Homo sapiens: one gene and its partners. The protein of the gene in region 2 purifies or fractionates together with the protein of the main gene of each other region. This does not show direct contact. Each region holds a gene or a part of one and is shown on either strand. Other genes may lie near its edges. The genes, in order: ARHGAP10, C2CD2, ARHGAP26 and SEC14L1.

What was found.
Region 1: the proteins of C2CD2 (region 2) and ARHGAP10 purify together in Homo sapiens (affinity purification with mass spectrometry; 3 studies listed by BioGRID and IntAct, with this or other methods). This does not show direct contact.
Region 3: the proteins of C2CD2 (region 2) and ARHGAP26 purify together in Homo sapiens (affinity purification with mass spectrometry; 3 studies listed by BioGRID and IntAct, with this or other methods). This does not show direct contact.
Region 4: the proteins of C2CD2 (region 2) and SEC14L1 purify together in Homo sapiens (affinity purification with mass spectrometry; 3 studies listed by BioGRID and IntAct, with this or other methods). This does not show direct contact.

Annotation. Positions count from the first base shown.
Region 1 is NC_000004.12:147,727,594-147,735,094, reverse strand, and holds the start of ARHGAP10 (rho GTPase-activating protein 10), read right to left. Parts: upstream 3,008-7,501; 5' UTR 2,794-3,007; coding exon 2,640-2,793; intron 1-2,639. UniProt on the Homo sapiens protein: GTPase-activating protein that catalyzes the conversion of active GTP-bound Rho GTPases to their inactive GDP-bound form, thus suppressing various Rho GTPase-mediated cellular processes. Also converts Cdc42 to an inactive GDP-bound state.
Region 2 is NC_000021.9:41,951,006-41,958,569, forward strand, and holds the start of C2CD2 (C2 domain-containing protein 2), read right to left. Parts: upstream 3,014-7,564; 5' UTR 2,644-3,013; coding exon 2,365-2,643; intron 2,146-2,364; exon of another isoform or gene 1,049-2,145; coding exon of another isoform or gene 1,043-1,048; intron 1-1,042.
Region 3 is NC_000005.10:142,899,361-142,906,383, reverse strand, and holds part of ARHGAP26 (rho GTPase-activating protein 26), read right to left. Parts: intron 4,450-7,023; coding exon 4,345-4,449; intron 2,845-4,344; coding exon 2,715-2,844; intron 1-2,714. UniProt on the Homo sapiens protein: GTPase-activating protein for RHOA and CDC42. Facilitates mitochondrial quality control by promoting Parkin-mediated recruitment of autophagosomes to damaged mitochondria.
Region 4 is NC_000017.11:77,137,002-77,143,989, forward strand, and holds the start of SEC14L1 (SEC14-like protein 1), read left to right. Parts: upstream 1-3,967; 5' UTR 3,968-4,106; intron 4,107-4,354; exon of another isoform or gene 4,355-4,438; intron 4,439-5,644; 5' UTR 5,645-5,749; intron 5,750-6,565; 5' UTR 6,566-6,595; coding exon 6,596-6,658; intron 6,659-6,988.

The DNA of each region.
Region 1 (7,501 bases), on a different chromosome or scaffold from region 2:
AGGTCGCATAGGCCTCAAAACTCTAAATATTTATGGAAGACTTCAAAGCATCAAGCCATCAAAATTACATATTGAAATCTTCCAAGAATGTAATGCAAACAGGAGACACCGTGCAGGGCAATTAAAAATAGAAATCACTTAAATACACACTTCTCGAAATGCTCAAAAGGTCATTTTTGTAAAATAAAATATAAAATATCTGGAAATATAAATAATCTGACCTAGTGGGTTTTATTCTTTCTGTAGATCCTCCACCCAATGTCATCCCTTGACTCTCTGATGTTATACAAAAGCTCAACTGGTTAGATGAACCATTTACCTAGACTGCAGTTTCAAATAACCTCATCAAGCCATTTTCAAATGCTGCAGAACCTTATTAGTTCCCCTAAGAGGTAGACAGGGGAAGTTGGACGCAAAAGAATAAGACCTGCTCAATTTTCCTATAGCCACGCCCTAACCAGTGAAGAAGAATTAAATTCAGGTCCCCTGACTTTAGTCCAAGGCTCTTAGTCTTTGATAGGAACTAGAAGTAAACTTTATGGAGCAAGCGGGAAAAGGCATGTGAGCTACAGCTGTGTTCCTGTCACCTTCTGGGAAAGAATTTAAACATAAATTCTTAATGAACATAACGAGAAAAAAAGACACTTCCCAATTACTCTCAAAGCATGATTACAAGTTATGTTTCTTATGCTAAAGGACGAGAATCAAAATGAGTAAGATACTAATTCACAAATTCAAGAAAGTCTACAGTCTGGAGGAAAGCTGACATCTGGCCCCCCAGATGCACTGGCTGCTGCTGGAACCTAACGCATGTGTCCTGATGGCAGGAAAGCTAATATGCTGTCACAGAAATAGCTTTCTACCAGTGGCCAAACTGGCTTTGCCCTCTGCCTCTCTCCACACCTCTCTAGCTCCAGAGGGAACTACTACAACCAATGAGAGAGAAGGTACATTCTCCCGGCCACTGACTCTGGTTAACATCAAGTTACAGAAAGAGTCCTCAGTCCTCATTCTCTCGTGTTCACTCTGCACCCCCGCTCCCAACTCCTCCTTTCTATGCTCACTCCTCCATATGTATAGGCGCCCCCCTACTTCCCACCCAACACACATACCAGATGCCAAGGGCCTGGAGAGCCCTCAACCAAATAAGCCCACTTGTCACATGTCCCAGAGTCCCATTTCTGATTCAAGCAGCAGAGACTTAAAAACAAAACAAAAAAACCCTAAGTGAGTCCCAGTCCTGATTTTGCAACACCAAAGAGGTCAGAGAACCAAAAGGAACCTTGGAGATCATCCAGAGAAGTTGAGTGACTTGCCTCCAAAATTACAGGGATGGCTCACTAAATTCTTCCCACAGAAATGTACTTCAACTTATTCATTAAATGCATATTTACTGTACCAGGCACCATGCTGGGTGCCCGAGACAGTATAATCAATATGTTTTAATCGCCCTTACTGAAAAATGGGGCGGGGCGCGGTCGGGAGAACAGTGAGATGGGGGATTTTCCCCAGAGGTGGTATCTACAAACAAATGTACAAGGGACGAATACCTAAGGCTGAGAATTACTGAACTGAGAATCTAGGTGAGTGATGAAGGCCCTAAGAACCCAGCCCCTCAAGGCTGGATACTGCCCAAGTCCCTGTCTGCTGTATGGACAGGTCTTTTAAAGGGGGAAAGGGGACATTCACCGCCATCCTCCGAAGGGGTTATGGATCCAAGGGATGGTCAGGCTGCCCAGCTCCTCACTGGGGCTAATTCCGCCCCATTTTCCAGTAGCATCACTAACTCAGTATTTCTGCATGAATTTTGGCCCCTTCTCTCCTAGAAAGACTCTCCTCAACTACACTAAAATACAGTTATCTCTCCTGTATCTCGTGTCTTCTTCCGAGTTTAAGAGACAGAAGTTCAGGGGAGGAAGGCACCAAGCCTAACCGGGGTGGAATTCCCTATTTGCAAGCAGTGCCCGCCTAGGCTAGAGGGCAGGCTGTCCGCTCACCCTTCCAAACCCCAATCTTTGAACCCTCCTCAGCACGGCAGGGGAGGAATGTGCGGAAGCAGCATAAAGCCAGGTGGACTTTCTGGTTTGGCACGTGAAGGACCTGGAACAGGACTGTCGGGGAAGATCAGACAATGAGAGGGAAAAGGTGAAGCTTAAGGGGACTCTGGAAAACTCAACACTCCCGCAGGGTTTCAAAGAATCCCCAAGAAATTTCTTTTGAGAAGTCACAAAACAAAACTAGGCAAACAGATGCCTCGGTTTTGTAAGAGATTGTGAGTAGCTTTAGGCAGCAATGAAACCTGACTCCGGGCCAGGAGTGCCTAGGGTCGGTCCAGCGGAGCGCGCATTCAGCGAGGGGTGTTCGGCCGGGGCCAGGCGGGGCCCAGGCGGGGCCCGCTGGCAGCTGGTTCCCGCCGCCGCAGAGCCGCAGGGGCGGGAATGGGGACTCGCCGCGCTGCCTCGAGGAGGAATGATTCCAGGGACCCCCCGGGGTTCCGAGAGAGCTGGGCTGGTCCGGAATGAATTCCCCGTTCCTCTGGCTGCTGGCCCCGGACACAAGACCCTCCGTCTCCTGCCGAGAGAGGCTCCCCCAGCCGCCTCGCCACGCCGCAGCCCGTCCGCGCCCGCGTCCCCGCTTACTTTTCGTCGCAGCGATGAGGTTCTTCCCGTCCTTAATGAGCTCTTTGATGAACTTGTTGGTCCTCTCGAGTTCCGCTTCGTGAGCGCGGATCCTCTCCCGGAACCACGGGCTGTCGAGGTAGCAGTCGCTGAACTCCAGGGGCTGCAGCCCCATGACGGCAGCGGTCGCTGCGCGGTGCGCACGGCCGCGCGCTCCTGCCCGAGCCGAGCTCCGAGGCCGCTGCCAGGTGCGGCGCCGCGCGTTCAGGGAGCACAGAGGAGCTAGCAGGCCCGGGCGCGCGGCGAGCGCGGCACGGACATGTCCCGTAGAGCCGAGTCCTGCGGCGCGGAGGAGCTGCCACCGAGACCAGCGCTAGCTGCGGCGCCCCAATCCCGGCAGCCCCCGCCGAGCTCTGAGCGCCCGCGGCCCCGCCCCGCCCGGCCCCCGCGCGGCAGACACTCCCCGAGGCGCCACCCGGCCGGGCCCGCGCTCCCGCTCGTCCCCTTCTCTTTCCTCCGCCTTCCTTCTTCCTCCCTTCCCTTCCCTGGACGCCTCTTCCTTCTCTTCCCCACGCGCAGCTGCCCCTCCTCTTCCTTCCGAGGCGTCCTGGGGCTAGAATTTCGCCCCGCGGCTCCCCTCCACCCTGGGCGCTCTCCCCTCCCCTTTGCTTGGGCTCCCGGGGCCGGGGTGACTCACAGTCGGCTCCCCGCTGCACGGAACCCGACCGGGACCGAGAAGGAGCGTCTTAATTGCAGTCGTTAGTCCCCGCAGGCGGGCGACATAACTCTGAAGTGGCTGCCTTGCAGGAGATGATTAACTCATTTATCTCATTTATCCTGGGACGCCCCCAACCCCGAGCTGGGAACGAACTCGCACAGGGGGCTCTTTTCCTTATCCCGGTTCCTTTCCCAGTTTAAAGTGAGATGCGTGGTAAATCTCCGCTTGAGATCGAAGCCTTACAATGGCAAGAGCGTTTTCTTGGTGGCCCAGCAGCTCCTATTACACTTCTCTGCGTATCCGCACTAAATAACTTAGTTGAAGAGAGAGGGCTGGCTAAACCACAGAAAAGTTGTTTCTGTTGTGTTCAGCACATTAAATTTGCTGGGGTAGGTGAAGACGATCTTTATTATTCTAAAAATAACTACCGGAAAACATGCCAGGTAACGTGTGGTTTTCACCGCGTGGGGGTGACGATCAATGAGAATTTATGTCAGTGCCCTCAAAAAGCCTATTTTGTGTGTTATGAAACAACTCCAGTGTGTCCCAAAAAAAGTTAGGCATTTTAAAGTATTAAAATGTATACCTTAGGCCGGACGTGGTGGCTCACGCCTGTAATCCCAACACTTTGGGAGACGGAGGCGGGTAGATCACCTGAGGTCAGGAGTTGGAGACCAGCTGGCTAACATGGTGAAACCCCGTCTCTACTTAAAATACAAAAAGTACCCGGGTGCGGTGGCACGTGCCTGTAGTCCCAGCTGAGGCAGGAGAATCGCTTGAACCCAGGAGGCGGAGGTTGCAGTGAGTCGTGATGGTGCCACTGCACTCCAGCCTGGGCGACAGAGCGAGACAATGTCTCAAAAAAAAAAAAAAGTATTTCTTAAAAAAAAACACTAATAGTTCATTAGAGTAACGTTTCATAATCGCAATTTATTAAGCAATTATTATGTGCCGGGCACCCACTAGGAACTCCATACATCTACAAACTCGCGATATAGACTTACATGATATGATGGTAATATTAACGAGAAACTTCAAAGTAATTCCTCAAGACGTTCAGACTCTCAGCTGGGTAATTAAGAATCTGTTTGGACAGCATGTTGTAGGAGGGTAACCCTCCCGAACAAGTTAAATAAGCCTCCTACTCAATAAGCCCTTTTGTTACAAAACAGCACCAGGAGTGCCTAACCCACAGATAAACATTATTACTCTAATGTCCATCCTCCAGAGAGTTCAAAGTGTTTTACAAATAACTTTTAGGCGGTGAAAGCTTCAGTTCCTACTAAAACCAGCAGGAGACTGGAGTCTACAGAAAAGAGAATAAAAGAGGCAAATAAAGGGGAAGAAAGACAAGAAGAGAGGGGGTGTAAACAAAAATGAGGGCCTAGCGAAACAGCCAAGCACTGACCACACTCAATCCTCAGAGCAGAAACCCAAACCTTTTCTCATAGAGGGGCTGCTGAGACTTCTTCAATATTGAACATGGAGGTTACCGTGTGACCCAGCAAGTCCACGCTTAGATATATACCCAAAAGAAATGAAAATATATGTCCACGCAAATATTTACACACAAATATTCATAGCAGCATTATTCGTAATAGCCAAAAAGTAGAATCAACCAAAATGTCCTTTGTCAGCTGTGTAATGGATGCACAAAATGTTTGTCCATAAAATGAAATATTAATCTACAATAAAAAGGAATGAAGTACTGACACGTGCTACGGCACAATAACGGTGAAAACGTTATACTAAGTAAAAGAACCTAGCTGCAAAAGGCCAATACTATCTACTTATATTAAATGTCCAAAACAGGTAAATCTATAGAGGCAGAAAGATTAGTGGTTGCTAGAGACTGGGGGATAGAGTGGAGGGTATATGTAGTCAGGAGTTTATTTTCAGGGTGATGAAAATTATTAATATTTTTATTTTTCATAGAGATAGGGTCTCACTATGTTGCCCAGGCTTTTCTCAAACTCCTTAGTTCAAATGATGCTCCCACCTTGGTCTCCCAAATTGCTGGAGTTATGGGAGTGAGCCGCCGAGCCTGGCCGAAAACAATTTAAATTTACATTTTGGTAATGGTTGCACAATTCTGAATATACTCAAAATCACTTAATTGTATGTGATAAATGGGTGGATTTCTTTTGGTCTGTGAAATATATCTCAATAAAAAATTTTTTTTAAGATGAACTACTCTAGAACTGCTTCTCCTTTACCACATTAGACTTCAAGCCGTAAAAACTCTGGTTTATTCAGTGTGCCCAGTTCTTTAGATATTTGGAGAAAAAAAAAAGTTGTTTAAAACAATGTCAAAACATCATAAAAAATATTACTTATCACTTCACACACATGTACACCCAGTGTTAAAGAGCTAGTGAATATGAATCTTAATTCATTACCAAATAGGTCCACAATAATTACCATGAGTGGAGGGGCCTGATTAATTTTGTTTTATTCAGCTATGCCTATGCAGTGTCTGGTATACAAGTGATCAGTAAATGTGGAATGAATAAGTATAACTAACTGAAGAGAAATCTCTGTACAGTGGACAGTGGAAAGATAGATATTTAGTAGTTCCAGCTCCAGCTTTACTACTTAACAGTTGTGCAACCTTAGCAAAGGTAATTTTCTGTAAACCTCAGACTTACCATCAGTGAAATGGAGATGATGACATTGCAGCTGCAGGTTGCTTGAGAAGATTTAATGAAATTGTGTTTGTAAAGTGCCTGCTGAAAATTATGATAATAATGAGACTCAAGGAAGAAGGAAGTGTGGAGGATGGGCTGAAGAGAGGGATGAGGGAGAGGAGGAGACAGATTACATTCCATCAATGTGGGAAAGATTTTCGGGGCAGGAGAGCCCTTAAATCATGGTTTTAAACCATGTAAGACAGAACTCAAGAAAAGTGGCCACAAAAGCAGATGCTACTGAGTTTCCAGGTTTCATCTTAATTAATCAATTATTCCCACAAATATTTACTGATCATTTATATGTATTAGGCACCGTATTAGGTGCTCATGATGCAGCAGCACACAAAACAGTCCTCACCGTGCTTTTGGTCTCTGGGGGAGACTGGCCTCATCCCAAAAAAAAAGAAAAAGAAAAATCACACACATATATATCCAATTGAAAATTGAAGCACCATGCAGTTAAAGTGAAGGGTGTGTGAGAGATTATAATTGGAACACCTGATGGAGATTGGGGCTGGGTCAAGGAAGGCCTCATTGAGGAAGTGATATGAAAATGATAATTTAATCAATGACCAGGAATATCAGTAGGAGTTAACTGTTAAATAGGGGTAGGAACAGAGTAGTACAGACATGGGACCAGCTTGTGCAGGCCCCTGAGATGGCACACTCAAGAGATGAACAGGTCGGTGGCTGAAGCCCAGTGAGAGAGACTGGCTCACAACTATGCCAGGTGGTGGAGGATAGGCAGGGTCAGATGGTGCAGAGCCTCTAAGTCTTATTTAGGATTTGGGACTGTATCCCAACACTGTTGGGAGCCTTTAAAGAGTTTTATGCATGTAGTAAAATGATCCGGATTGTGTTTTCTCTCTAGCTGCTGTGTGGAGAATGGAAATCCAGACAGAAGGTGGTTGGAGTTGTCTGGGCAAGAAATGGAATAGCTCAATCCTCCAAGGTGACCCTCCAAGGAAACAGCGAGAAATAGACAGAAATGAAGTATATTTTAGAAGGAGATTCTGGGACTTGACAATAGCCTGGATATTGGAAATGAGGAAGAAGGGGTCAGCGGTGGCCCCCAGGCTTGTGGCATGGTAAGTTAGGTGGATGGATATGCCACTTACTGAAAGGATAACATGAGGTAAGAAGCTGTCATGGCAGTGTTGGTGATGACTGGGTTGGAAGGATGCGTTTCAGTATAAACTCATGAAATGTTTGAGATGCCTGGGAGACATTCAAGTACTTAAGTCATGTAGGCACTGACACCCAAATGGCATTTTTATGCTTTACTCAGTGCTTGGATTAGTTAGGGATTTGAATCAATGCAAGCTGGTCAAGTTTCAGTCTACATGAAATAGAGGTTAACAGATAGGAAACCTTCCCTTGATGTAGGTTCTGCTGCATACCATACTGTAGTTTTTGTGTTGTGATGACTCACAAAGTACCTACCTGTAAAGTTAAATATGGGTCTACTGAATCCT
Region 2 (7,564 bases):
TGGAGTGTCAGCCCTAATCCGGGATTAGTGGGAATGGAGGTGGGGGAGGGCAGCCACGAATGGACACAGCAGCCCCTGCTCTCCCACACCGCCATCACTGTCACAACAGCGATGGCCCAGGATGCTGGGATGTGTGTGACAATCGCTGGACTCGGGGCGGCCAGGAATGCAAACACCACTACCTGCTCACCCACAATGCCATCACTGACACGGCAGCGACGGCTCAGGATGCCGGGAGGGTGTGTGACCGTCACTCACAGGGAGCCCAGTCACCCAGATCCTATCTGCCTGCAAAACCTTCCATTTGAATGCAAATCAAATGACATTCCCAGGCATCAGGGCTGTGTTCCCCCACCCCCGTCCCCAGGAAAGTAAGCAATACCAAAAACTGACATCACAGAACTAATGGACTATGTCCATGCAAAAATGCCAGAGATGGCCCTGGGTTGCTTTGAGCATGAATCCGGGACACTGTTGCCTCTTCCAGGCAGGAGGTCAGGAGAGACAGGTGTCTGAGACTGCAGTGTGTGGCCAACAGCAGAGAGAGAACAGAGAAGGCGCAAACAAGGTGAGACCCTCTCTCCTCTCCCTGAACGCAACCCCTCCCTGCTCCCACACAAAGACTCAAGTAAAAAGTTTTCATCCAAAACTTTCAAATATTTCTTTCAGTGTTCTCAGATTGACTTGACCAGCCTAAGACAGATGCCAGGGACATCCTCTTCTCTGCCTCTCAACACTTCAGTCAGATGGGAATATGGAAGGATCATATCCAAGAGGATCATATTTTCTGAAGCCAATCCATAGATGTCAGGAAACGAACCATCCCAAATATACAGGAGGTAGGGTCACTGCCTCTAAGCCTGAAACTCCAGAGTTAGAAGCTGAACTTAAAGGTCATTCACCCAACACTTGCCTGCCTCCTACAAAGGACACAGATGAGACTGGTGCCCAATCAAGCCACCAGCCTGGAGGGGACTCAGCCTCAGAAGCCTTGATTCCAGGTCAGTCAGGGGTCAGTGATGGCAGCTTCCTGGGGAAATACCTGCATTTGCTCCTGGATGTGAGGCCAACAGGGGTGGAGGGCTCCCACAAGAGACAGCTGGTTTCCCTGAGACACTCTCCAGCTCTGGACAGCTGAGGCACAGATTCTGGGCACCAGGACAAAAGTCAGTCAACTGACCCTGAAGCCTTTTTCCTCCAAAAAGTACAGTCATTTATGTTCTTTTTCAAGAGTTCAAAACAAGGTCTCTTGATTTGTTGGATGGCTGCTAACTGATAGTCAAAGCTTTTTTGTTTTTTAATTCCATGGCCATGTCTTCCAAGGCCATGCACAAGGACCAGGCACAGGGCCCGCCATGGAATATTTTGAAGGTTGATGGGGCCGGACATTGAAAATGAGCAATTCTGCTATTTCCACAGCGAATGACCACTGAGCTGCACAGGCATGTGCAGGAAACTGTGGCCTGGAAGGGCGGAGCAGCGGCCAAGACTAGGGGTGCCTCCCCAAACCCACCCAGGCTCCAACTTCTCCTGTGAAATGCCTAAGAATAGTACATGCCAGGAGCTTGTCGTTATACTAAGATGTCTTAAAAGCAAAAATAAGTCAACGAGTAATCAGCGACTACAGAAACACCCACAGGACTGTGAGGCAGCAGAGGTAAGACACGAGGCCCTTAGCTTGCAGGCCAGGGCAGCTGGATTCACATGCCAGCTCTGCCGCCCACGAGCTGTGTGGCACTGGGCAGGCTGCTTGCCCTCTCCGGGCCTTGGTTTCCTCATCTGTAAAACAGTGATAACACCCCTGTCCCGGGAGTTGTGAGGATTCAGAGATGGCAGACGCACCGAAAGCCTCGGTAGGATGTCTGCCCAGCGGCTGGCCCTCAGCAAACGGTCACTATTTTTATATGCCAAGAAATGCAAGTCTTTGGAGATAAATTCTTGGTGAAATTCAGCTCTATGAGAGGCGGAAGCACATTGGGGTCACAGCTATTCATGTATCATGTGCAAGCTCAGTAAGTGTCCGATCGGGCACGGGAATTCGCCCCGGGACTCCAGGCAAGGCAGGTACTGGCTGGCGCGGATGAGCACTTCTGACGGTCCCTCCAACTGCCAGCCTGTCCCTCGCGGAGCCCAGGGCCTGGAGCACCTGCCGTTTGGAGAATAAAATCAATCACTTTGTCTTGTCTCTCCGTCAAGGGGCCTCGCTCCCCCGTCTCTCTCCTAACTCTCGAGGATGGTCTGCGCTGGGGGGAGGACTCCCTTAGCCTGGGTCAGGGGCTGCAGCGACGCCTCCAGGAAAGACCTCGGCCCGGACCGCCCGCCCCGGCATCTGCCGCCCCCCGGCCCGCAGTCCCGGAAACTCACCCCTTTCCTCTCGGCCTCCTCGTTCAGGGCGGTCACCCAGGCCGCCTGCCACTGGCTCCTCCAGCTGCCCAGCGTCAGGATCCAGGAGAGCAGCGCGTCGGACCCCGGGCGCGGCCCCTCTCCAGGCTCCACCGCCCGCCGCTGGGGCTGGGGTCGCGCCCTGGCCAGCGCCCACTGCGCCAGGTACAGGCCTACCGTGGCCAGGGCCGCGACGAAGAGCGACACCAGCGCGAGCCACTGCGCCTCCCCGAGCCACGAGCCCAGCCGGGCCATGGCCATGGCGCATCCCCGGCCCGCCTCGCCCCAACTTCCCCGGCAGCCCCGGGCCGGAACGGCGGACTCAGGACACGCGCTGGCTGCGGCCACAGCGCGCTGGGGGCGTGGAGGGGGCGCGGCGGGGTCGGAGCCCGGCGAGGAGCGTGGCCGGGGGCCTCTGGGCGGGCAAGCGGGGAGGAAACGCGCGGCGGCCGCGGCCCGGGCTGGGCGCAAGCCCCGCACACCTGCGGAACAGGGGCGCGAGCGGACCCCGCGGCCCGCGCTCCCGACTCGGCGTCTGGGAAGTTCCTGGGCCGCTGCGGGCCGCGCTTCCTCCTGCGCGCGCCGCCCCGGGCGTCCCGCCCGCGGCCCAGCGGTGGCCGGAGGAGGCTCTGGCCGCGGGGCGGGGCGGGGCGGGGGCGGTGCCCGAGGGAGGGGGCGCGGCCGGGCCTGCGGGGGCCGCAGTCCTCCCCCCTGCTCCCAACGCGGCGTGCCCCCGCCCCCCTAAAGGCCCGGCCTTCCCGGCCCCGCCACGTGCGCGCGTCGCCCGCCCCTCCGGCGCCTGCCCGCGGGCCGCGAGGTGACCCGGGCCTCCGGATTCATCAGCCCAACCCCGGCGGCTGCTGTGCGGCTGCTTGGCTTGGCTCGTGTGCGCGCTTGCACAAGTGCGTGTGTGTGCACATGTGTGAGTGTGCGTGTGCACAGCGCGCAGTCAGGGTGATTTCGAGGACTGCCATTTGCTCGCCAGCGAGACAGGATCCAGGCTCAGTCCTCGGAAAGTCCCTGGAAATCCGTGGCTGCCCCTGGAGCCAGGGGCTGGGCCTGCCTTAGGGGGCGTGCTTCTCAGAGGCAAGGAGGGGCTCAGCACCAGGCCCAGGCCCTGCCTTCTGTGTGGCTGTGTCATTCATTCAGTGTGCGGGTGGGGCGGGGGTGCATGTGGTGTGATGTGTGTGGCGCATGTGGTGTGATGTGTTGTGGGTGTGGTGTGTGGTGCACAGGATGGTGTGAGTGTGTATGTGTGGTGCATGGGTGTGGTGTGTGTGTAAGCGTGGTGCATGTGGTGTGGTATGTGTGTTGCGTGCCAGTGTGGTGCATGTGGTGTGTGTGATGTGTAAGCGTGGTGCATGTGGTGTGGTGCGTGTGTGGTGTGTCGGTGTGGTGCATGGGTGTGTGTACGTGTGATGTGTAAGTGCACAGCATGTGGTGTATGTGTGTGGTGTGTGGTGCACAGGATGGTGCGAGTGTGTATGGTGGTGCATGGGTGTGTATGTGTGATGTATAAGTGCAGTGTGTGTGGTGTGTGTGTGTGGTGTGTGTGTGTGATGTGTAAGCGTGGTGCATGTGGTGTGGTGCGTGTGTGGTGTCGGTGTGGTGCATGGGTGTGTGTACGTGTGATGTGTAAGTGCACAGCATGTGGTGTGTGTGTGTGGTGCATGTGGTGTGTGTGGTGTGTATGTGTGATGTGGTGTGGTGTATGTATGTGGTGTGTCAGTGTGGTGCGTGTGTGTGTGGTGCACAGGGTGATGTGAGCGTGTGTGTGTGGCACATGGGTGTGGTGTGGTGCTGTGTGTATATGTATTGTGTAAGTGCGTTGCATGTGGTGTGGTTTGTGTGTGTGGTGAACACGGTGGTGTGTGTATGTGTGGTACATGGATGTGGAGTGTGTGTATGTGTAATGTGTGAGTGCGGTGCATGTGGCGTGGTGTGTGGGTGGTGTGTCAGTGTGGTGCATGTGGTATGGTGTGTGTGTGTGTGGTGTGGTGTGTGGGACATGCCCCTGTGCCCTCCTCTTGCAGAGTGGACGCGGTCCTTAGGGAGTGCCATAGAAACATACTAGCCTGAGATTCTCCGGGGCCTAAAACAGGCCTAAACCATAAAAAAGTGATTCCCCTGTTATTTTCTGCAGCTGTATTAAGGGGACTTGACCTTGAAAGGAATTAGATAGACTGAGCATTTGGCCTTCTCTTCCCTAGCCAGGAGTCTGCTGCGGGGCCAGTGGATGGTCCATCAGAGGGGATTCTGGCCCTGAATCCGTGGGCCCGGATTTTCTTCAGGAAAGAGGAAGGAATGGCACAGCAGCTGGACGGAGAGCCTTTGTGGGGAACAGGATAGGACGCTGTCAGGGAGGTGAAATTAGACGGGGATTGCCCAGGTGAGCTGGGGATGGACCCTTGCGAGCCAGGTCTGTTATCAGAAAGTGGAAATAAGAATGAGACTATCCATCCTGGCTAACATGGTGAAACCCCGTCTCTATTAAAAACACACACACACACAAAACTCAGCCGGGCGTGATGGCGGTCGCCTATAGTCCCAGCTACTCGGGAGGCTGAGGCAGGAAAATGGAGTGAACCCGGGAGGCGGAGCTTGCAGTGAGCCGAGATCGCGCCACTGCACTCCAGCCTGGGCGACAGAGCGAGACTCCGTCTCAAAAAAAAAAAAAAAAATTAAGAATGAGACCATCAGCATCCTGCAAGTGACCCATGTGTTACACACGAGCGCTCCAGTCTGCCGCAGCCTCTTAAGGGTGGGGGGAACTGCTCTTCTTTTCTTCTATTCTGTGTTATTTTAGGCAGAAACAAAAGAAATCCCTTCTTATTTGGCAGAAAAGTCTAATTATGTTCTGACCTGTAGCTAGACCTATGCAGTCAGATAATTCGAGTCCTGCTGGTCCCCTTGCCAGAATAACCGGGGTGAGGAATCCGAGGGCCCAGTGTTCCCCGTGCCATGTGTGCACACAGGCCGCCTGCGGCTGTGTGGGCAGTGACGAGAGCCTGTCCTGTGTGACCGGTGGAACCCGTCTCATTCCTTCAGGTCTCAGGTGTGCTGGCCCATCCCACTTACTTATTTAGAGGCTTGTAACAAACTGTAAACTAACCAGCACCCCTAGTTTGGGATTTGTCACACTTCCATGTGACAAATTTTCTTTTCTTTCTTTCTTTAATTTCTTTCTGTATTTTGAGGCAGAGTCTCACTTTGTCACCTAGACTGGAGTGCAGTGGCACAATCTCGGCTCACTGCAACCTCCGCCTTCCAGGTTCAAGCAATTCTCCTGCCTCAGCCTCCCGAGTAACTGGGACTACAGGCGCCTGCCACCACGCCAGCTAATTTTTGTATTTTTAGTGGAGACGGGGTTTCACCATGTTGGCTAGGCTGGTCTTGAACTCCTGACCTCAGGTGATCTGCCCACCTCAGCCTCCCAAAGTGCTGGGATTACAGGTGTGAGCCACTGTGCCTAGCCCCGTTAAGTGTTTTCAAAGATAATGTCAACATGTAGATATTGGATTACTTACGTGTAGAAGCAAATCGAGGGAAAATAAGGAATGATGCAGGCTTGCAGGACAATGCAGTTGGCCAAAACACGAAATCGGAACAGAAACATCTTATAAATCTATGAAAAAGAGCAGGCTCCCTTTACACAAGCTCCCAGCCCTACACATCCACCAACTCCCAGTCCCCTTCTCCCACTGCAGAAGACACTGGAGGGCTGGGTTCTCCCAGAGCACAGGATTCTGCCTCACCCCCAGTGACATTTCCTGCTCCCGGCACCTCTCTCTCCACCACATCTCCCTTCCACCCAAGGAGTGAGACTGCAGCTCTGCCCGGGGAGGGCTTCTGTCTCCACCAAAACCTTCAAATGGGTCTCTGTCACTCTGCAGTGGTTGTTTGCTATTTTTAGCTGCTCATAAAGGGAAAGCACTGTGGCTGTGGCCCCTCCTGCATGCTCACCTTGAGCTCCCAGCTCCCAGCTGTTTAGGTCAAGCTAAGCCCGCTTCCCATCCATCTGCTGGGTCCACCAGAAACCTTGAACCAGGGCTGCCTTCGCTAGCATGGCAGGCCTCCAGGCGGGAAGGAGGAAGCCAAGTGTCTAAATTCTTCATAATGCTTTACAGTAGCTGGGTTTGAGGCCACAGTCAAGAGCCACTGTTCTATTTTTCACTTTAAAACATTTCTAAATGCTGGTGGTGGAGATGAGAATTGTCTGTTGGATGATCTCTGCTGAGTCACCCAGTCTTGGGTGCAGTGCCTCATCCCTGCCTCAAAGCTGTAAGTCTTTGAACGTCTTCCTCTCCCAAGCCCAGGAGGTTCTGGGATGCTGTGACATTTTTAGAAATTAATAGATATGTCTAGTGTCATGTATGTCATGTATCGCACGTCTATAAACAGTTATACTTTGTTATACTTTTGGGTTTTAAAAAATTCTTTTAGAAAAATGTGGGACTTTTGTTAAGTTTTCAATGTCATTCTTAAATTTCTAGAAGCAGGGAAAAGAAGAGCGTCCAAAATGTTTATAGTTTGTCTCTGAGTGAAAAGTTTCCCCTTCACCCTGAAGCAGTTCACATTATTAGTATTGCTTGAATTATCAAGTTGTGCCCCAATATTGTGAGACCAGCACCTTGGGGGCCCCGGGGAGCTGTGATGGTCACTTCACAGGCCCTACCAGGGACCTCTAGCAAGTGGAAATACACAGCTTCCCCCCAGCAGCACTTGGGGGCAGACGTTTCGAGAATTCCCTCTTAGCAAAATGCTTTTAGCACTTGGCTCAGTGCCCTCGGCAGCTGCTGTGGGAAGCGAGATTTCTGGAGACCAGAGAGGCTGTGGAGACATTTGACCCAATCTCCTTGGCTCCATCTCACTGGCTTAGTCATTTCCACCACCTGGAGGCTGGAATGTGCTTCGAGTCTATTTCCTGTACTGCTCACAGGGTCAATACCGGAGCCGGCGGACCCAACCAAAGGTCACCCGTGGCCAGAGCCTGGCCCGGCGCCAGACAGGGCTTTCCCCCCGAAGAGGGGCCGTGAGTTCTTCTAGTAATCATTTGCATGACTTATGGAGATGCTGTTCATGATGCCTTCCCCAGGAGGAAAGCAGCAATGCTGAGTAACTGCACTAACTCCCCAGGTGAGCCTCAGATGCCGCGTGAACAGTCTCTGAGAGTGAAGACCAG
Region 3 (7,023 bases), on a different chromosome or scaffold from region 2:
GATCAGCTCAGGCAAGGATTGTCAATGGATGCTAAATCTATGGAGGTAAAGTGTGATAAGGAGAAGGATATTTACATGATCTTAAGGTGTTACCTTCAGATTGCTAATTAGTTACAAGGGGAAAATAGTGACTGTATAGTGGAGAAACCAGACAATACCTTGACTGGGTGATCAAAATTTACATCACCACTGAGGGGCAGGTCGACACCACATGTGTCCAGATGTGGCCCCAGAGAAGAACTCTTATGTAGGATTTGACCAGAGATGCATAATCCAAATCTAATCATGAAGAAACACCAGATAAACCCATGCTGAAGAAAACTGTATAAAGGAACTGGACTGTGTTGTTCAAAAATGTCAATGTCATGAAAGACAAAGAAAAGCTGGAGAACTGTTCCAGATTAAAGGAGACTAAAGTCATGACAACTAAATGCAGTATGAGGTTCTGTACTGGAGAACAACAAAATGCTTTAGAAGGCCATTATTGATACAACTGGCAAAACTGGAATACGGACTGTAGTTCAGATTAAATATTGCACCAATGTTAAATTTGATATTAGGTTGGTGCAAGAGTTCAATTGCGATTTTAGCCATTACTTTTAATGGCAAGAGTTCAATTGCGATTTTAGCTATTACTTTTAATGGCAAAAACCATAATTACTCTTGCACCAACCTAACAGATGTGTTTACATAAAAAGAATATCTTTTATTCTTAGAAAATACTCACTACTGAAGAAGCATGGTATATGCAACCATATTCTCAAATGACTCAGAAAAAAGTGTGTATGTGTGTGTATGCAAGTTGTACTCACGTGAATACTCACACACCCACACAGAGAGAGAAGGAATGATATCATTGTGGCTAAATGTTAAAAATTGATGCACTGGGTAAAGGGTTTATGGTTGTTCCTTACACCATTGTTGCGACTTTTCTGTATGTCTGAAATTATTTCAAAATAACAAGTTACAAAAAATTTAAAATTAAAAAAAAAGTGCTGTATCCCCATCATGTGCTCTGGACTGTGTTAGGGAACAAAAAAGTGTCCTCATGATAATCAACACACTAATGTTGAAAGAGCATGTGAAGTGTCTGAATAAAAGTGTGTGACATGAGAGTGCAAAAAAACAACATTGATTTTATATATGTAAGTGAATGATATATTAACAAATTAAGTATTATAGGTGGACTTTGAACTATATTTTTAGAGTCCTAAAAATTTATATTTTCAAGTAGACCTAAAACCTTTTGCAGGGATCTTCTCACTGGGCAAAGAGGGGATCACTTTGTATTCAGGCATATACAAAACACACAGCTGAAGTAGCTACATTTCTTATAAACCTCAACAGGCTCATCTCTGTAAGAATAAGGAATGTAATCCTCATCACAGCCAATACTCCAACACCACTACTGCCCCAGTTACCAGGAAACTTAAGTCCAAACAAATTTTTGAGTAATTACTAAATAGAATAATTAGTGAAACCAAGTATTTCTATTCTATCCCATCGGAAAGCTATTAGGAGTGAAGACATCTGCCTAACTCTACATGAAGAGCAGGACATGAAAGAACACAAAACCTGCAAAAATCTGAAAAGACCAATGTTCTCTACCAAAGGACTAGGAGAAGAATTACCCACTAAAGAAAAAAACATTCACTTTCTTTCGTTCCTAGCATTGCATACACGAATTAAGTCTGAATGTGCTATCCTAAACGGCACGGCCCCATCACAGAGCCTTTCCCCAGCCATAAGGCATGAACTTGTGAGTCATCACTAAAATGTCCATGTTAGCAGCACCTGGCATTCCTTTCCTAGACATCACTGGCAGAACAATGAGTATTCTTGGCTCTTTTTTTTTTTTCTTTTAAGAGACAGGGTCTTGCTCTGTCACCCAGGCTGGAGTACAGTGGTGGCAATCTCAGCTCACTGCAGCCTCCACCTCCTGAGCTCTTATAAACCTCAACAGGCTCACTCCGGTAAGCAATCCTCCCACCTCAGCCTCCCAAGTAGCTGGGCCCACAGGTGCACACCACCACACCTGGCTACTTTTTGTATTTTTGTAGAGACAGGGTTTCACTATGTTGCCCAGGCTGGTCTTGAACTCCTGAGCTCAAGCAATCCACCGACCTCAGCCTCCAAAAGTGCTGGGATTACAGACGTGAGCCACCGCATGCAGCCTTCTTCTTGGCTCTTGAAGTGAGCCTTTGTTCCTACTTTTCATAAAATTCAAGTGTTGGAATGAAATGAGTTGAGGAGAAGAGGAAAAAGGCCTAAGTCATGATTGTTTGGGCCTTGCTGAAACAATGTCAAATGAAAACAGAATCACCAAGTATTAAGTCTACCAAAGGATACACTGCTGATAGATAACAGGGGCCTAGCATGTAAGACCTTTCCAAGGCTGCTATGCTCAGGGTATGGTACATAAAGCTGGACTAGGGGTACAGGAACCCCAAGAGTAGAGTAACATTAGAGAGAGAAGAGCAACCACAGAGCCTTAAAGAATTGCAGGTTCCCAAAGGAATTCCCATTCATAAAGAAAAACAAAGGTAGACAAGATTCTGTGGACATCATCTTTCTCTTTGGAAAGGTGAACTATAAAATTGTTCTTGTTATCCAAGCATGTATCTACAGTAAGGTAGGCACTGCTGAATACATCCTCCACCTTCTAGGTAAGAGGCCTGAGTACATCCCAAGCTGTTGCTAGTCAAAGCACTCACGTTTCTCCTGCACGTAGAGGTATCCCTCCATGGTGTAGGGACTGATGGTCTTGTGCTCAAGGGGATTCTCCTTCATCTTTTTCATCAGTGATTCCACTTCTGATCTAGTGCCTTCAAAGCGATTTCTTGTCTAGGATGAAAATAATTTTATTCAAATCAAAGAAACAAAGTATCTGTTTTAACAATCCAGATCAACCTAATAGAATCCTTAGATCTAAAATGAGATAAAGGACATTCAACCTTCCAGGAACTGGCCAAATACTCCCTTATGACAAGTATACTTTGGCCTTAAAGTCCTATACCAGAATGACTCTCAAACTCTAGTGACTATCAAAATCACCTAGGGATCTTATAGAAAATGCAAATGCCCAGCCCTCACTCCTACAGATCAATTCAGCACCTCTGGATGCCAAAAAGTGTGTTTTACGATAAGCCTCCCAGGTGATTCTGATTCAGATGCTCTAGGGGCCTGTATGACTTAAGGACCTAGGCGTTCATTTCTCCAGCTGCCATGAATGTTGCTTGCTGATGGCTCACAGATGAGTCCCTCCTTAAAAGGGGAGTTCCTTCACTCAAGGTCAGCCTGCACCCAATGACTAGACAAGGCTAGAGGAAAGGCAGAAGGGGGTTGAAAGCCTGGCCCCCTTGCTTGTATTCAGGGCGACTTTGAAGGATCATCCCAGCTCCAGAGCCTCCCCTGCACTGAGACCTCTGCTGCATCTGCATCACAGCTCTATTTCCCCCTCTGCGAGTCCAGGTGCCCTCACTCTGTCACAGGTGTTTTCACCAGCATTGCCCCCACCTCCAGTAAGCCCACTGCATGTCAATCTCGATTTCAGAGCCTGCATTCTGAGAAACCTGGCCTAAGGGGAAGCCATGCTTTGTGAAACCTTTTCCAAGATTCTGCAACTTCCTGTTCTCTGAGACAACACTGACTACTATGTAACCTCCAGGCTTCTAAAACCCATGCAGTACAACCCACATGGACACAAGATCACCTAGAGACAAAGAAAATAAGAAGAATAACATGGTCCAATCCCACAGTGAAGAAGGGGGCTCAAGCCCCAGTGACTGCTAACCAAAAAGCCCTACGCAGGATTCTGTGCACCAAAAGGTCCTGTGTTTAAACCTTGGGAATGCTGACCACACTGGGAGCGAAGCACGGACTTGGATTTCCTGCCAGCCTTCCTAAGAGTTGGACAAGAGAACATCCTTTGAGCTGGAGGCCAGCATGTGTCCCCAGCCCCCATTCCCAGAACACACACTCCACACGGTCTCATGTAGTCAGGCAGCTAGATGCATAGAATGGAGGCTGGGTTGGGCTGGGATTTCCACCGCCAAAGGAAATCCTGACTCCAATGCTACAGACGCTACAAATTTGAAACATAACCAGCAGCAGCACTTCCGAGAACATAAATAGGGCTTTGAAATAATGGAGAAGAGGATGATGGTCTAACTCAGAACCACCAAGCACTCTAGAAACGCCTGCCCCTAGTTTCCCTCTGAACCCAAGCAAGACCCACCCTCCTCACCTACATTCCAAGCCACCTGGATGGTTTCTAGGGCAATCAGGCCCATATTTTGTTTTTCCTTAACCAGATAAAAGAAGCCTGTCCCTATGCCCACTCACGTTCTGTATGCTAATGGTTAACTGTGTCTTGAAGTCCCCGAAATCCTTGGCCAGTTCGTAACCATGGTGATAGAAAGTGAAGAGTCCTTGCAGGAAGGCCAGCAGCTGTAATGAAGGAAGAAAGGCAAAGGTCACATAACCAGGTTGAAAAGAGGTATTATGTAGCTGTATCTGAGCTCCCAACACTGGCTTGAAAGTCTAAAATAAAGAATAATAATGGCTGACATTTAAAGAGCACCAATTGTGTGCCAGGCACTATGCCCTTCCATGCCCTGGGTGAGTACTCACAACATCCCATGACCTAAGCACTACTGTTATCCCCATTTTAATAATGAGGAAGCAGGTTCAGAGAGGTTAAGAAACTTGCCCCAAAACACACAGTAAGTGGCAGCCAGAACTTGAAACCAGGTCTCCTTGGCATCAACACCCATGCCCTTGCCCTGTGGGCCTCACCACCTGCTGAGAACATCATTTCCTCAGAAACCAAAGACCAGGGTTCTGACTCAGTTTCCCTCTAGTACATTTGTAGTATCAGGTTATTACACAGAAGAGGAAGGCAGAAAAGGAAGTGGGGTGTCCTGAGTCTACAGTCTAACAGGCAAAGTCAAATCAAAGAAAATCATCCAACTGAAGTGTGTTTCCGTGCTTTCCCCAAACTACTCAAAAGTAAACACTATGGATTCCTTTATTAAAATATTTCCATATTCCCACATTTTCACTTATGGTGGTTTCCCTAAATTCTCAATTAAATCCCTCAGGCTAAAAGGTAAGCCCGTTTCATTGTTTAGTCTTGTCTTTAGTGAATGGTAAAAACATCTGTTCACCACAATGCTCACCACACGGCTTCATATACTTAAAAACTATTAATGTCCCCTCCCTGAGCCCCTACCAGCCTTCATTTATCCAAACTAAACAAACAGCATTCCTGTGGTCTTTCCTCTCGGAGCTTACATCCAAACCTCACTGTTGTTATGCTTTCCTGGCCCCTTCTCAAGTTCTACACATCTTCCCTCAGTTCTAAACTTCAACCTGAAGAAAGGATTATAATAAAAGCCCGAACGAGATTTAGGAAAGACCAGTGCCTCACCTCTATCACAAAGCACAGCTCCATGGTATTTGGGGACTATCCCATTAACTTCGGCTTCTGAAGGCTGACCCACATTTTCTGAGGGGTCCACTCTGACCTCCCTGACCTGCCATACCACCTTATTCCAAGACACATTTGCTTTATTTTACATTGTGGTCTTCAGATTTTCAGTCCCTAAATGATTTTTTTTTAACCTGTTAAACATTACTTATTATGTAAAAAAAAAATTTACTTTACTTACTAAACATAATCCCATCCCACTTATTTTCACCTAACTAACTCTCCTTTTCTGAGAGGCAGCTATAATAAGTGACGGTAAAGGAATCTCATCCCGCCCCCCCTCCCCCTACTCTCCCACCTTGTTTGCAGCAGGAATAGTAAGCACAAAAGTATATAGCACTGGACCTAAACTCAGAGGGCAGGCCAGCCCAGTTTAATCAAAGATCTGGGCCCTGTGAAGATAAAACCCAGATTATGACAATATGGCCCTTAACTTCCCATTGCCACTGTCCCCGGCCCATCTATCCCCTTAGATTCTCATGGGTGGTGGGAGAGTAGGCATTGCTGGGTCCTCTGGCTATAAAACTATCCAGTGGCACCATATACAGACCCCTAACATAAATCCGTGAATGAGTGGTAAGCCCCATGGAGTCACTAGAGACTGATAATGAATGTTTTTCTTCAAAGACGGCCGAAGGCTTTGGGCTTATTCTATACAAAATACTTTTCTGAGAGGAAGACCCATACCTTTCCTTTTAGATGGCTCCAATAACAGAGGAGAGGAGGCTCCTCTGCCAAACCGAGTCCCAGCATTCACAGTGAAAACTGTTTTGCCTCTTCTTAACTCTGCTCTCCCTGCTATCTGCAAATGCCCTGCCCCATCGCCTTTCCAAGGCATGACACTACCCCTGACTTGAGAATAACGCAGAAGATAAGCAGTTAATTCCAAGGTCATTCCTCCTATTAACTATGATTTATCCTTCACTCATAGTAAACAGAGCCTCTCTTGCTCGGGGTAATTAAATATTCTCAAACAGCTCACTAAGATGCCACCTGGGCATACCCGCAAGTGCTCCCCAAAGGCAGGGAGTTACTAATATTTATTTTGTTTTTCCTCCTTTAGTCTCATGCCTTGATTGTCCATTTTTTTATGGGAAATGACTCCTTAACATATTGCTATTTTTGGCCCACTTCCCCCTTGCTTCTCTCCTCCCAGCACCTTTTCTCTCCCCCACCCCCAACACTATATGAACCTTTGAAGTATTACAAAGTGGGAAATGAAAGTCCACTCCTCAGGGGGCAGGATGAAGCCCACGGGACTCCAGAGATGGGGGAGCTGTCTGCTTCAAAGAAATGCTTCTACCCAAACACTAGGAGGAAGAGCTTGCTGCAGTCCCACCTGGTTATCAAATAAGAGGGGTCAGCTGTCCACGGGGCAACCACAACATCACAGCCTGACATAGGAAAGATCTTTCCCGCCTCCCTGTGCCTCCTTCTCTATCCTTGTTATCCTAAAAGAATAACCATAAGCAAAACCTATTCCTACTTCCTAGCTGACAACATAATTTATTTTTTTCATTTTAAAAAGCAAA
Region 4 (6,988 bases), on a different chromosome or scaffold from region 2:
CAGGTTCAAGCAATTCTCCTGCCTCAGCCTCCAGAGTAGCTGGGATTATAGGCATGTGCCACCATGCCTGGTTAATTTTGTATTTTTAGTAGAGACGGGGTTTCTCCATATTGGTCAGGTTGGTCTTAAACTCCCAACCTCAGGGGATCCACCTGCCTTGGCCTCCCAAAGTGCTGGGATTACAAGCGTGAGCCACCACGCTCAGCCACAAGAAAGCAGTAATTTCTTAGTATCATTATATGTTCAAATAGTGCTTAAGAGGTTCCACAGGCTGTTCAGGAAGCATGGCGCTGGCATCTGCTTAGCTTCTGGTGAAGCCTCAGGGAGCTTTTAGTCTTGGTGGAAGGAGAGAAGGGGGAACAGGCAGGTCACATGGTGAAAGCAGGCAGAAGCTCCAGAGAGTAGGGGGAGGTGCCACCCATTTTTAAGTGAGAAGATCTCATGTGAACTTAGAGAGAGCTCACTTATGGCCAAGGGGATGGCCCAAGCCATTCATGAGGGATCTGATGACCCAAACGCCTCCCACCAGGCCAGACCTCCAACACTGTGGATTACAATTCAACATGAGATTTGAGTTCAGACTATCTCAGGGCCTACATTCCTGATCATGAGGAATAAGACCACCTGCATCCACACAGCTTAGCCATCAGGACTGAGACCTAAGATCTCTGTGTCAACATGACTTACTATTTGATCCAGGAGATTCTTGTTCAGGAATATTAGACTGTAAACCAATACGTGCTTTCACTGTTTGCCTCAACAAATTCCTGAAAAAGCATTTATTGTAACAAAAGATTGCTTATCTTTACATATAACCCCCTTCTCTGGATAACAGTATAACCACCCAAGGGGTTCACCTTCCCTGCTGCCTAGAGAGAGCTGATTCATCAGGACAGGAGGATTGCAATAGAGTCATTCACACAGAGCTGGCTGTGCAGGAGATTGGAGTTTTATTATTACTCAAATCAGTCTCCCTGAACATTCAGGGAGCAGAGTTTTTAAAGACAACTTGGTGGGTCGGGGGAGGCCAGTGAGCCAGGAGTGCTGATTGGTCAGGGAGGAAATCATAGGGAGTCGGAGCTGTCTTCTTGTGCTGAGTCAGTTCCTGGGCGGGGGCCACAAGATCAGATGAGCCTGTTTGTTGATCTGGGTGGTGCCAGCTGAGCCATCAAGGGGAGGATCTGCAAAATGTCTCAAGCACTGATCTTAGGAGCAGTTTAGGGAGGGTCAGAATCTTGTAGCCTCCAGCTGCATGACTCCTAAACCATAATTTCTAATTTGTGGCTAATGTTAGTCCTACAAAGGCAATCTAGTCCCCAGGCAAGTAGGAGGTTGGTGGGCAGGGTGCTGTGGTTCACTCCTGTAATACCACCACTCTGGGAGGCTGAGGCAGGCAGATCACAAGGTCAGGAGTTTGAGACCGGCCTGACCAACATGGTGAAAGCCCGTCTCTACTAAAAATAAAAAAATTAGCTGGGCACTCGCCTGTAATCCCAGCTACTCGGGAGGCTGAGGCAGGAGGGCAGGAGAATCACTTGAACCCAGGAGGTGGAGGTTGCAGTGAGCCAAGATCGTGCCACTGCACTCCAGCCTGGGCAACAGAGTAAGACTCCATCTCAAAACAAACAAACAAACAAAAAAACAAAAAAAACCTAAGGAAAAAAATAGCAAAAAGTAGCCAGGCGTGGTGGCACATGCCTGTAGTCACAGCTACTCAGAAGGCTGAGGTGGGAGGTTCACTTGAGGCCAGGTGATGATGCTGCAGACGGCTATGATTATGCCACTGCCCTCAAGCCTGGGGAACAGAGTGAGACTGTTTCAAGAAAAAAAAAATGGAAATAAAGTTTTTTGTGATTGGTTGATGTCTCAAGTCTGTTTTTTCTTCAAAATGTTTAACTGAAGTATAATATACATATAAAAGCTTGCAAATCATAAATGAATGTATGGCTCAACAAATTTCCCAATCTCTTTTAATCTATAGATTGACCATTCCCCTCTTTTTTTCCTTTGGAATTTGATAAAGAATATATTTGTCTTGTACCGTTTCCCACAGTCTGTACTTTGCCAATTGTTTTTCATGGTGTCATTTAGCATGTTCCTCTATTCTGTATTTCCTGTAAACTGGTGGTTGCATCTAGAAGTTCAGCAGGTCAGGTGAATTTTTTTTTTTTTTTTTTTTTTTGACACGGAGTCTTGCTGGAGTCCAGCCCAGGCTGGAGTGCAGGGCAGGTGGCGTGATCTTGCCTCACTGCAACCTCTGCCCAGGTTCAAGTGATTCTCCTGCCTCAGCCTCCCAAGTAGCTGGGATTACAGGCATCTGGCACCACACCCGGCTACTTTTTGTATTTTTAGTGGAGACGAGGTCTCACCGTGTTGACCAGGATGGTCTCAAACTCCTGACCTCAGGTGATCCACCCACCTAGGTCTCCCAGACTGTTGGGATTACAGGCGTGAGCCACCGCAACGGCGTTAAAGCGTCTTTTGAAGGTGGATGTGATTTTTTTTTTTTTTTTTGGGACGGAGTCTCGCTCTGTCGACCAGGCTGGGGTGCAGTGGCGCGATCTCGGCTCACTGCAAGCTCTGCCTCCAGGGTTCACGCCATTCTCCTGCCTCAGACTCCCAAGTAGCTGGGACTACAGGCGCCCGCCACCACGCCCGGCTAATCTGTTGTATTTTTAGTAGAGACAGGGATTTCACCGTGTTAGCCAGGATGGTCTCGATCTCCTGACCTCGTGATCCGCCCACCTCGGCCTCCCAAAGTGCTGAGATTACAGGCGTGAGCCACCGCGCCCGGCCGGTGGATGTGATTTCTACAAACAAGCAAAAGCCAGTCAGACTGAATGTAGTGAATAATGTAGGTGACCCAGCTGGAAGATGATGGTTTGACGTGGAACACAAGGGGTGATGAGGCCATGAATGATTTGCTTGTGTGTCTGGTAAACTGGCTTTGATGGAAATTCCTAAACAGGTCCAAAAACGTTCTGTCCAATGGCAGCATGAAATGTACAGCCACTCAGGGTGACTAATGTGAACGGAACAACAGTGACTTTGACAGTGAAATTGCATGTTGGTTATAAAACCAGCTTTGCTGTGTGGGTGGGCATGCGAGGTGCCCCTTTCTAGTCATGAGCTCCTCTTAAGGACCCCAAAATGTCTCAGTGGTACCGGATTGAAAATTGGGGCTGGACGGTGCTCTCCTGCTGAAATTCGGGAGCTACTTAGCAGCCCCACCTTGGCACCCTCGTTTCCGAGGGGCAGGCCCTGGGCGCGCGTCTCAGTTTCAAGCCCGCGGCCCGACACTAGAGCCGTCTGGATGTGTTGACAAGGATGCCGCTGGGCTCCACCCGGGCTCACCCGGGCCCTCCCGAGCCCTGGGCCGCGCAGCACCGGCGTCCGCCTCCTCCCCATTACTCGGCGAGAATGCGGTCGGGGCACTGGCGCGAGCAGCCTGGTGCTCCTGAACAGTCAACAAGAAATGAGGAAGCACGGGGGCAGCCGCCAGGGCGACCAGAGGCAGGCCTCAGAGCAGCAGCCATACGGGAGGGCCCCGGTGGTTTTGACCTCCCGCAAACTTCCCTTTTCCCGCTCAGCCGAACCCCTCCCCTGCACGCCGGCAGCCCCTTGGGGCTTCACTCCGCCTCCGCCCGCTACTCGCGAAGCCCAGCCCGGCCCCGCCCCCAACAAGTGACGCAAAACTGGGAGGGGCCACGAGGACCTCGGGCACATCCAGCAGTGCGACGGGGCCGGCGCCTTCTCCGAGCTCCTCCCACGCTCGCGGGTCGGAGCTCGCGCCTGCGCAGTTCGGGCCCCGGGTGTCCTCCCCCCTCCCCTTTCTTAGCAACCATCGCCCGCTCCCGCCCCCGCTCCCTCGGCCGCGGCCGCGCACGCGCGCCCCTCCCGGCGCCCGGCCCCGCCCACCCCGTCACCCGTAACAACCACAAGTGCCGTCGCCGCGCCCCTTCCCCCTCCCGCCTCCCCGGCCCCCTCCCCGGAACCGGCGGTCGAGCTACGGTCGCGGAGCAGTGGAACCGAGACTGCCCCGCGGAGCCGCCGGTATGAGCGCCCCTCGCCACCCCGTGTCCCAGGCCCGGCCTTTCTGACAAGAGGTAGGCGCGTCGTCGCGGCGGGTCCGAGTGCGCCCTCGCCCCGGTCCCGGTCTCCGTGGAGTCCGGCGCCTCTCGGGCGGGCCCCCCGGAACTCCCGGCCGCCCGCTTGCTGAGCCTGTCCCTCCCCAGCCCCGGCTGCCATCGGCCCGGCACCCGAAACGGGCCGTGCCCCCGCCCCCCTGCTCGCCCTCCGCCCCCCTGCTCGCCCCTCGCCGCCCCTCGCCCCCCTCCCCCGCCCCCACCCCCACCTCGCCAGGCTTCCAGTTCCCGGGAGCCGCTTTTTGCTGAGAGCGGAGTTTCGGGTCCGGAGCCAGTGCCCGCCCCTCTCTCCCGTCGGTCGGGGCTTTGGCCCCGTGGGGCTCAGCCGCGCGGGACCCCTGCTGAGCAGCCCCGGGCGCCGGCCGCCCCTCGAGCCTGCTCGGGATGCGTTCAGTGGGTCTGGCCTTTGGCTCCTGTTTAAACAGCGATTGTCATGCAATGGAGGCCGTCCGGCTCCTGGATGCCACTTGGTCGTTGTCACTCCGGATGCCCGCGTAGGGCGTTTATCTGGACCAGAGCATCGGCAGCTGAGACCTGGCTGTGGTTCACAAGCTCGTGAATTAGCAGGTTCTTAAGTGAGTGTAGCCAGTTCTGCCAGGCGGTGGAATCCTGAATGGATGTTACCGTTTCTTAAACGAGCATTACGCTTTTTTGCTTCTTCCCCCAACTCTTGTTTGTACCCGGTTATCGTCCTCATATCTGGGAGAGTACCCTAAAATTAATATTCCCAATTAAATTTTTAAAAGATGATTGGATTCCCACTGTGCACCAACACTGTAAGGTTTGCAAAAGAAAAAGAACGTGGTCCCAGCACATCAGGATGTGTCAGTCGCATAATCAAGATGAATATTAGAAAAGCTTCAAGTTGAGTTTGGAGAACTTGGGAGTTTGGCTCTCATTCTCATGGTTTTAGAGGTGGAAGTCTTTCAAGATCATCTCCCCGAAAACCTCATTTTACAGAGATGAAACTGAGTCCTAGGGAAGTCAAATGGCTTACTCGTGGTCACCCAGAGTCATTCCTTAGCCGTTTTCACACTGTCAGATGGCGATGTTTTCCACCATGACCTCTCCTCTGAGAGGTATGCCAGACATACCAGAGAAAGTTCCAAACCTGTTTAAACCTTAGTACTATAGATGGGAATTCTATACCAGGCGCCGTGACTCATGACTATAATCCTAGCACTTTGGGAGGCTGAAGTGGGCAGATCCCTTGAGCCCAGGAGTTTGAGACCAGCCTGGGCAACATGGGGAAACCTTCTACAAAAAATATATATGGTGGTGCGTGCCTGTGGTCCCAGCTACTTGGGAGGCTGAGGCAGGAGGATCACTTGAGCTTAGAAGGTGGAGGCTGCAGTGAGTGGAGATTGTGCCACTGTGTTCCACCTTGGGCAACAGAGAGACACCCTGTCTCAAAAAAAAAAAAAAAAAAAAAGGAATCTTGGAAGTTTCTGAAATAAAATACATCTTGGTAATTTGTCTCTCTCTTTTTTTTTTAACAGCTAGACTTCGGGCTCCTTGAGGATATTCAGTTTTGTATGTTTGAATATCCTCTCACCATGTTCAGCATAAAGTACCATTCTTAATGATTATCCTCAACAAGACAGGTAGGCTCATTCGATTTTTCTTTCTCACTTTAAATAGGGGAGACAGAGGACTGGCAAGTCCAGGTGTGTTTTTAGAGCAATCCGTGTAGGCTGGCGCTAGAGAATGATTATGCACCCATAAGGAGGGCTCCTTGACTGTGAATTAGGTGTGAACATTTAACCGATTACTTACGGATATTAGCTATCTGAGGCTAGAGATTTCAGTGGAGCCTGTTTAGCCAGAATACTTGGCATCTCTGCCACTCGAAGACAGGTCGCCAAAGCTGTAGTGTACACAGTTAGAAAATAGGAATTGACACGTTTCCTTTGAAGCTAGCTTTTGAGGAGTATTCCATAGTTTGAGATACAGTAGTATTTTTTTCCAGTTTTATTTTTGTTTTCCCAGAGCTAATATCTTAACACGAGATCATTTTTATTTGGCTTCTAGTAGAAGTTGTTTAAGAGAAAATGATCCAAGCATTAATTATATTGGTTATTAGAATAATAGAATCATAACAGTTCATTGCTGGAAAGGACTCAGGTCAGGTCATGTAATGAATGCAGAGTCCCAGTAAGCCAATGAGAGGATTGGACCCCTCTCACACCAGTACTGTTTGCCTCATTGCATTGGGGCTTTGTCTGCTTTTTCTTATTGTTTAATTACCTCCCCCTGCCCTCATGTATTTAAATATCATCTTTTCATTTTTGTGTGCATAGAATTATGACCTATTGTGGTCTCTTTCTGTCGTTAGAGTGTGGTATGATGTGTCAGTGCAGACTTACTAATAATTTGTTTCTGCATTGTGGTTACTTATCACATATATTTATGTTTTGCAGGTGTGAGAGGGTTGCTGTTGTATTGCAATCATGGTGCAGAAATACCAGTCCCCAGTGAGGGTGTACAAATACCCCTTTGAATTAATTATGGCTGTAAGTACTTGACATTTCAATTTACTCTTTGGCTTCTTATTTATAAAGTACAGTGTTAGAATTTGATGATCTATAGATTTATTGTTCGTCTCCATGGCATCACTTGAACTTACTCTGTTTTTATGCTTATGAACCGTATCTAGAGTGTGTAAAATGTTTTTAAAATACAAGCCTCTGAAAATAAAAATCTGCTTATTAAAAAAAATGCACCTCAGGGTAATGTATGAATTGAAGTTAATTCTCCCTTTGAACACACAGAAGTGGGATTCTAAGCACTTCTTCCTCGGGGTTGTGCTCTTTTTTTCCTTCGTTAGAGTAGCAAAGGGACAT